2 separate regions of the Homo sapiens genome follow, and region 2 is linked to region 1. The links come from fine-mapping of genetic effects on gene expression. A gene starts in region 1. The other region holds a variant in brackets. All regions are shown on one strand. Distances are between the middles of the regions.

The links. PIP is the estimated chance that this variant, and not a neighbour inherited with it, causes the effect.
Region 2: its variant is the best candidate, but not a certain one, in a credible set for the expression of RAB1B in whole blood (INTERVAL, PIP 0.79).

Annotation. Positions count from the first base shown.
Region 1 is chr11:66,266,170-66,270,552 of GRCh38, forward strand. RAB1B (RAB1B, member RAS oncogene family) reads left to right here and starts at 2,470. Exons shown (of 6, transcript NM_030981.3): 1 at 2,470-2,524. The coding sequence starts at 2,511. It overlaps KLC2 (kinesin light chain 2), which reads left to right. Exons shown (of 16, transcript NM_001318734.2): 14 at 1-48; 15 at 264-321; 16 at 704-1,691. The coding sequence ends at 787. KLC2-AS2 (KLC2 antisense RNA 2) reads right to left here and starts at 2,242. Exons shown (of 3, transcript NR_186342.1): 1 at 2,130-2,242; 2 at 1,886-2,039; 3 at 1,380-1,662. RefSeq lists enhancers at 40-922, 1,679-1,728, 2,029-2,078, 2,199-2,528, 2,689-3,570 and silencers at 1,179-1,228, 1,249-1,568.
Region 2 is chr11:66,191,406-66,195,788 of GRCh38, forward strand. PACS1 (phosphofurin acidic cluster sorting protein 1) reads left to right here. Exons shown (of 24, transcript NM_018026.4): 2 at 2,081-2,168. Among named protein-coding and RNA genes, the nearest start is that of KLC2, 64 kb to the right of the region's middle. The variant G/T (reference allele first, on the strand shown) is at 2,622.

The DNA.
Region 1 (4,383 bases):
GGTAAAGAAGCTGCAGGGGGGCACCCCCCAGGAGCCCCCTAACCCCAGGTGAGCCCCCCACCAAGGTGAGCCTCAAGAACCACCCAGCAACCCCGGATGAGCTCCTGACCCAGAGTGTGCCCCACTGACCCCAGGCAACCTCCCCATCCCTCTCAGGCTCCACCACCCACCAGTCTGTTCCCTCCCCAGCCCCACCCTTCTCCCTGCCCCCATCTCCCGTGAGTTCCTCCTTGGGCAAATCCCAGGCTGTCCTTTTCCCTCAGGATGAAGCGGGCCAGTTCCCTCAACTTCCTCAACAAGAGCGTGGAAGAGCCGACCCAGGTAGGGGCAGGCGGGTGTCTGGGCACTGGGCAGCTGCGGCCGGGGCTGCATGCGTGCTGCCAAGCTTCCCTCCAGCATGCCTCTTCATCCAGCAACAGTTCCTGGCTCTGTCTCAGGCCTACTTTGGGCTGGACAACGGGGAGACACGAGGGGAACCCAGCCTCTCCTGGGGGTGGACGTGTAAACGGCCAGTGCTAACACCGTCACTGTGGAGATGGACGGGAGTGTCAGGGCACCAGGGTGTGGCCTTGGGTCAGAACTGCCATTGCCTCTGCCCAGCTCAGGGATTCCGGCTGCCTCTGCCAGGTCAGACCCCTTCAGGCCAGGGAGGCACAGACTGGCAGCAGCACAGGGCTGAGCCACCTGCCCCCTCTGCCCACAGCCTGGAGGCACAGGTCTCTCTGACAGCCGCACTCTCAGCTCCAGCTCCATGGACCTCTCCCGACGAAGCTCCCTGGTGGGCTAATGCTGAAGGGGCAGCCAGTCACCAGAGCGCCCACCTGGCACACCCCCCTCACCCCAGCCCTGCGCATGGGCCTGCTGCTTGTCCCGCCTGTCTCTCCCACAGCCCCTGTCTTTTCTGTTCAATCTCAGGGTAACCTTCTCCCTTGTCATCTCAGCCTGAGCCCTGGAGGCTGGGCCTGCCCACTCCAGCTCCATCCCTTATTTATTCCTTCCAGCAGGGCCCTCTTCCCTAGGTTCGGGCCAGCAGGAGGTGCCGGCTGGAGTCTCCACCATAGACTCAGTGGCCTGGCCTCCCCAGACCCCAGAGCCAAGAACACTAAGCACTCGCCGGCCCTTCGGCACCCTCGCCCTCCCTCCCGACTCAACCCGGCCGTTGCTTCTGTATATAGAGAAATAAGTTATTGGCCGCGCGCCTCCCTTCAGTCCACGGTACTACCCGGGCCTCCCCTCGTCCCTCTTCTAGTGGTACCGCCCAGGCCTTAATCACCCCCATTCCGTGCGGTGGTATCTCCCAGGCTCTACATTCTCGGGAGCGGCGCCTCCCAAGGGGGTCCTGGGACCTTCTCGCGCTCCTCCTGGCCTCTGAGGGATGCGTCCTACCCGCGCCATCGCCCCGTGGCCCAGGACGGGGACCTCCCCTTAGTCCGTCCTCCCACCGCCGGGCCCTGCCCCGCATCCCGGCCTTATGCACTGCCCCTCCCACCCGGCCCCGCCCAGGCACGGCCGACCCCGCCCCGGGCACCGCCCACCGAGCCATCCTGCCTCGCCTCCCCCCACGCCTGCAGCTTCTCGCGAGGGGCGGCGACGGTCCCCTGGTGGCAGGAGGGGCTCCCCCTGTTGCGGGTGAGGCGGCTGCTCTCATATTTTCAGATGTTGCTGTAGAAATAAAGACGGTTTAAATCTGAGCTGGGCTTGTTTTGAGACGGAGGTCGGGGGCCCCCAGCGTCTCTAGACTGGGGTGGAGCCGGGAAGGGTCGTGCGTGAGTGGGGGACAGTGTGTCTCGCTCAACCGCTGTCCGCGCAGCTGGGCCCAGATATTGTGCCCCACCCCGGAATTGCGTGAGGGGCCCACAAGTCAGGCTTTCCCTAAAACACTCACTTGTGGGGTTCTGGAGACCGCGGGCTCTTATGAGCTCTGCTCCTCACAAAGTTTTTGACCTTGAGTGAGTTTCCCGAGACTCAGTTTTTTCATCTATGAAATGCGGGTGATGACGCGCGGCTGCGAGTTAGGACTGCCCAGTACACGAAGAACCCTGGACAAATGTACTTTTATTAGTCTTACTAGAACCCACATTCTCATTTAATGTTCACAACGTGGGTATTGGGAGGGCAAGGATGACTACCTCCGTCAGACAGATGTGAAACGTGCCAAGCCCAGCCCTAAATTGAGCTTTCTAAACACCGAGTCGCGGTCAGGCTTTCCAGCACTGTCCTCAAGCCTGAGTGCGTCCGGAGTGCAAACTACAAGCCCCAGAAGGCAATGCGCCAGCAGTGATGGGAGTGGGCGCGGAGGCGCGGGCTCCCCGACTACGCCTGCGCAGCGGGGCTGAGTTGGAGAACGTCTTAGACTACAAGTTCCGGGAATCAGCGCGGCGAGGCCTGAGAAGAAGACGTTTGCGCCTGCGCGTCGCGGGCGGGGCCTCTGGGGCGGAGCGGCCACCATCTTGGAACGGGAGGCGGAGCAGAGTCGACTGGGAGCGACCGAGCGGGCCGCCGCCGCCGCCATGAACCCCGAATAGTGAGTGAGCCCCGCCCGCGCCGTCCAGCGCAGCCTCGATCCCGAATACAGGGCTGTACGCTTACCGGGGTTGTCTGGCCCGGGTCAGGACTGTGCGGCGCCCCCACATCCGGGTCCCTCTTCCGCTGACCCCCCCCCACATCCGGGTTCTGCCCCTCCCCCCAGGGGCCCCAGGACCCCGGCTCAAAACCCCGAGCCCTCGCACCCGGGGCCCAGACGTGGCGACCCCCAGGGGCAGCTCTTGGAGCTCGAGACATCGGTCCTACCAGGCCTTATCGGTCAGATGACCCCGCAGTCCCGGTCACTTCAGGCCTCAGTTTCCCCACCTGCTGCTTGACAACTGTCCCGGAGTTTTGGAGCCCGTCTTGATAGTTTCTGGTCTCGGGTTCAGGCTTGGGCCCTTTAGGTCGGGCAGTGAATCCCTCTACCCTTCTCTTTCTCCTGAAGCCCGGCTCCTGGGGCCGGCCCAGAAGCTAGCCAACTACGCGGGAGGCCCCGAAGCGCCGCTTGGGTCGCGTCTCCCGCAGGTCCTCTCTTCCGGGGCTGCCTCCTACCCTTTGCCTGGGTCGCGCTGTCCTGTCGCTCCCGCCGGTCCGTCCTTTCCCGCCCTCTCCTCGCTTTTGCTCAGGCCCCCAACGCCACCGTCACACCCCTTCCCTTGGCTGTCACACTGCCTGTGAAGTTTAGATGAATATGGAATTTGCTCTCCCCCTTCCTGTGGGATTCTCTGGTCCTCAAACTCTCCTCACTCTTGGTCACTCCCCCTGCGGGTAGGTGGCCCACATCTCATGCCCAGGACTAATAGTTTTCCCCAAGTATCAGTTATCTTCTTCCTTTTCTGCCACTTCCTTTTTCTACTCCACATCCAGGTCTCAGATTTCCTTGGGGAAGGGTGAAGCTCTGAGCTGGATTGGGAGGGGAACAGAGAAGGGAACCAGCAGGCTCTCGAAGGGACTTTGGAGTCTGAGAAACCTGGTTTGAGTCTTAAAGCGATAAACTGTGTAAGTTAGGGCAAGTCACTTCCCTTCTCTGGCCTCTGGTTTCCTCATTAGTTGACAATGACAAAACTGACTTCATTGAACTGTTGTGAAGATTAAATGAGATGATGCATTTAAAGTACTTCACACAGGGTCCGTCCACAGGTTGGAACTCAAGTATATTAAATGTGATTACCTTTTGCCTTTTTTTTTTTTTATTTTGAGACAGGGTCTCTCTCTGTCACCCAGGCTGGAGTGCAGTGGCGTGACGATGGCTCACTGCAGTCTCCAACTCTTGGGCTGAAGCAGTCCTCCTGCCTTGTCCTCCTGAGTAGCTGGGAATACAGAGGCACACCACCACACCTGGCACATTTTTTAATTTTTTGTAAAGACAGGGTCTCGATATGTTTCCCAGCCTGATCTCAAACTCCTGGGCTTAAATGATTCTCGTGCCTCGGGCTTCCAAAGTGTTGGGATTACAGGTGTCAGTCACTGCACCCAGCCTTAAGTGCAATTTTCACTGCAACTTGACCACCTCTTCCTGGTGACTTCATAACAGGTTTTTGTTGTTGTTGTTGTTGTTGTTGTTGTTGTTGTTGTTGTTGTTGTCTCCAAAGAGATGGGGTTAGCCGGGTGCGGTGGCTCAGGCCTGTAATCCCAGGACTTTGGGAGGCCGAGGTGGGTGGATCACGAGGTCAGGAGATCGAGACCATCCTGGCCAACATGGTGAAATCCCGTCTCTACTAAAAATACAAAAATTAGCTAGTCATGGTGGCGCATGCCTGTAATCCCAGCCACTCTGGAGGGTGAGACAGGAGAATCACTTGAACCAGGGAGTCGGACGTTGCAGTGAGCCGAGATCGTGCCACTGCACTCCAGCCT
Region 2 (4,383 bases), 75 kb before region 1:
GGGATTAGGAGATGACATCTGGGTGGTGGGGGCTGGGTATTTGGTCCACCACAAAGAGATTAGTTAGAATCCAGCTCTGTCATTTACTGGCTGTAAGTGAATTTGGGCAGGTCACTACTCCACTTGAAATGTTTTTCTGTTGCATGCGTAGAACAGTGAGCCCCCCAACACACATCCACACAGTCCTGTTTTTGAGGTCTAGGTAAAATGATATAGATGAAGAGACCTGATAAGCTTTCATACATTTTATTTGATTTTGATTCTAGCTTAAAGCAAAGAAAGAGATTTATTTGTTTTTCTTTGTGTTAGTCAGCAGATCTTTGAAAGTACTTGGGTGACTGGGCGTGGTGGCTCACGCCTGTAATCCTAGCACTTTGCCAGGCCGAGGCAGGCGGATCACCTGAGGTCAGGAGTTCGAGACCAGCCTGGCCAACATGGTGAAACCGGTCTCTACTAAAAATACAAAAATTAGCCAGACATGATAGTGGGTGCCTGTAATCCCAGCTACCCAGGAGGCTGAGGCAGCAGAATTGCTGGAACACGGGAGGTGGAGGCTGCAGTGAGCCAAAATCATGCCACTGCACTCCAGCCTGGGAGACAGAGTGAGACTCTGTCTCAAAAAAAAAAGAAAGAAAGTTCTTGAGTGAGGTTAATTCAAAACCAGAATTTAGTTCTGTTGACCTGGATTTGTCCTCCTTTAAAAAAAAAACAAAACATGAATTATATTAATTTCTTCACATACTCTTGTTAATCTGATTTTAGCTAGAAGCCATTTTAGGAAACTTAATGTAACAAATATTTGCTGAGCAACTATATACTGTGCCCAGCATTTGGGCAGATGTTGGGGAGAGAGCGGTGGAGAGGCAAGCCTGCTGCCTGCCCGCCGGAAGTTACACTCCAGTGGCATGATAGGAATTGTGCTGGGGACACATCACAGACTTTGCAAGGCATCGGGGGAAGTTCTCCTGGCAAAAATGCATAACCCAAGGCTGAGGAGGCGTTAGGTGGCAGGGTGGTGCCAACAGAAGGAACAGCAGCCTCCAAAGGCCCTGAGGCGAGAGAGGGTGGCACTGCCACGGAGCCAAAGGAAAGTTAGTGTGGCTGGAGCTGAGGGAGGGCTGTGGAGATGCAAGACAGGGGCCTGAGCAGGGCCTAGAGGGCCTCAGCACGGAGGAAAAAAGAGGTATGAAATCCAGCCGGATTCTCTGGACTTGTCATGACTCTGGTAAGCAACATCCCTCATGTGTACCGTTCCCCAGAACCTCTCCCAGGAGAAGAATGTGTAAAGACTTTGACCACCCAGGCAGCCATAGAAAGGCAGCTTCCAGAGTCTCCCTCCCACTCCTGCTGGAAGTCCAGGGTGGCCCTGCTGTGGTAAGGCCAAGGTAAAGTCAGAGCAGAGTTACTGAGACTCCACAGTGAGGGACAATCCTGTCACTTTTGAGTTGCGGGGAATTTCTTGATTTGTGGCACTGAAGATTTTCTGCATATTTGGAGCAAAATGCAGCTGAAATAGAATTTGTGACCATTTAACTATTTCCTGCCAAATGATGTATGTTTTGTTTGTGTGGATTATCTCCTCTTGCTAAAGATTTACATCTGTACATCTGTCAGGTGTGATCAGGTGGAAAGTAGAAGAGGAACTGTGTGATTCTCCTCCCTTGGTCTCCTCTTCCCCCTCAGAAATGGCTCCAACATACTAGGCATGGAGAATATTTTGCCTTTGGCTTGAGATGAATGATATCCATGGAAGTTCATGCAATAATGTACCTTTTGACACTTAACTTTAGAAGCTGGGCATGGTGGCATGTGCCTGTGGTCCCAGCTACTCAGGAGGCCAAGACGGGGAGGATCCTTGGGCCCAGGGCTCCAGTCTGGGCAACATAGTGAGACCCATCTCTTAAAAGTATAAACATTAAGTAAGAGGGGATGCTCTTCTACTGAGAGAGGGGACCCCTGGGACTGAGGACAGCGTTCTCACATTCTTACTTCAGGTAAGGCAGATTGCCTAACCAATTGTTCATCACTTTTCTCGCAAGTTCCTCGCATATGACAGCATCTTCCTTCTCTGTTTTTCTAGGCTATTCAGCTTGACCCTGAAGAAACTCGTCATGCTAAAAGAAATGGACAAAGATCTTAACTCAGTGGTCATCGCTGTGAAGCTGCAGGTGAGTGGGGCAGGACTGTTTGTTCAGGGCCCAGGGAAGCTGGATAACCATTTGCCCACTGCTGCGGCTTCAGAAACACTACTGGGACCACCTCTGTCTTCCTCCTCTCAGCACAGCAAGGTGCACAGTGGAAAGATAACAGAGCTCACAGGACCTTCTGAGCCCAGCTCTGCCTCTTGGTTAGGGCACTCAGTTTCTTCAAACCTATCTTTGTCTGAAGAACAGAAATGGTTTTTCCTACACATACTGTGAGGATCAAGTGATATAGATCCTAAAGTGTTTATTGTAAACTACTCAGAAATTACTAGGCTGGCTAGCTTTGGTTTCAGTCTTAGTCCCAGGATTGCTAGATCCAGGTAGATGCACGGGTATGGGAAGCACTTTGGAGGTTTTCTTTTATTTTCTTTTGAGACAGAGTCTCGCTCTGTCACCCAGGCTGGAGTGCAGTGGCGC[G/T]ATCTCGGCTCACTGCAAGCTCCGCCTCCCGGGTTCACGCCATTCTCCTGCCTCAGCCTCCCTTGTAGTTGGGACTACAGGCGCCTGCCACCACGCCCGGCTAATTTTTTTGTATTTTTAGTAGAGACAGGGTTTCACTGTGTTAGCCAGGATGGTCTCGATCTCATGACCTCATGATCCGCTTGCCTCAGCCTCCCAAAGTGCTGGGATTACAGGCGTGAGCCACCGCGCCCAGCCTGCACTTCAGAGGTTTTCTATAGGGTGGAAGAAACTTACAGATTGTTATTTCAGACTTGGCAATTTAAAGTTTACTGGGATATTTTATCTCTATATAAATCCCACTTATAACTCCTTACATTTGGTATATTCAAGGGACCCAAAATATTTCACAAACATTTGTATTCTTAAGTATTCCTGAATTTAAGGAAAAGAGAAGGGAAAAGCTGAATTATAGAAGGGCTCAGGAATTTACCTGTTGCCAGCTAATTACCAAGCGACAGAACTTGGACCAGAAACTAAAGAGTGGGTAATTTGTGTGCTCATTAAATCCCATCACCAGACCTCCCTTAACTGATTAATCCTTTCTGCTGATGACTCCCTGGAGTAGAGTGAGATTCTGCAGTGCCTCTGGAGTCACTAAATAATGACTGGAGTCTTCAGCTTAAGGATGGTGTATTTACTGAATTCTTATTCATTGAAAAATAGCAAACTGTATGATAACTCCCTACTAACCAGAATATTTTATTAGCTAGTTCACCTACTATGCTGCAGTTTATTGTACTATATCACCTTCATTAAAATCCACTTCTATATCACTCTCAGTGTGTGAATCATATATTGAGGTGCCTCGGCCTCTTTCTGGGATAAAGACGTTAGTCCCAAATACATAATTTAGTTCTCAAAACTTAAAATGTTGGGCCGGGCACTGTGGCTCACACCTGTAATCCCAGCACTTTGGGAGGCTGAGGTGGTGGATCACTCAAGGTCAGGAGTTCGAGACCAGCCTGGCCAACATGGTGAAACCCCATCTCTACTAAAAATACAAAAATTAGCCAGGCGTGCATGTAGTTCCAGCTACTCAGGGGGCTGAGGCAGGAGAATTGCTTGAGCCTGGGAGGGAGAGGTTGCAGTGAGCTGAGATTGTGCCACTGCACTCCAGCCTGGGTGACAGAATGAGACTCCATCTCAAAACAACAACAACAAAAACTTAAAATGTTTTAATTACTCATGAATTCCTGTGTGTCCCACCTTATATTCTAATTCCCTGTTCATTTTATGCATAATTCCTTCCAAATCTATGAAATGTTCCCAGACACTGTGTTGGGAAAGCAAGTGTGGGACAGCAATGTGAACTATTAGTGTCTTGTCCTCCTCTCCCGATTTTGGTCCCCATTTCTAGGTCACAGGCAGTGTTCCCGTTTTCAGGAATTGCTTCCTTTGCTAAAGAATGTTGCTGTCCTGTGCCGACACCATTGGGGTGGTTTTGAAAGTTCCCCACTGCGTTTGCCATCCCTGCAGCTAAATGCTTTTGCCAAAGAAATAATTTATTTCCTGATTAAATATTTAAGATTCTATAATTCTAAATTATACCAAAACTACAAATATTTTGAATTTTTAAATTGTTCTACTTCCAAGCAGCTGAAAGTAATTACAGATGTCACCACATTCATTTATTCAGTCACTTATTTATGCATTCATATAATAAATACTTATTGAGCATCTATTATGTGCCAAACATTGTTCTAGGCACAGGGGATACAGC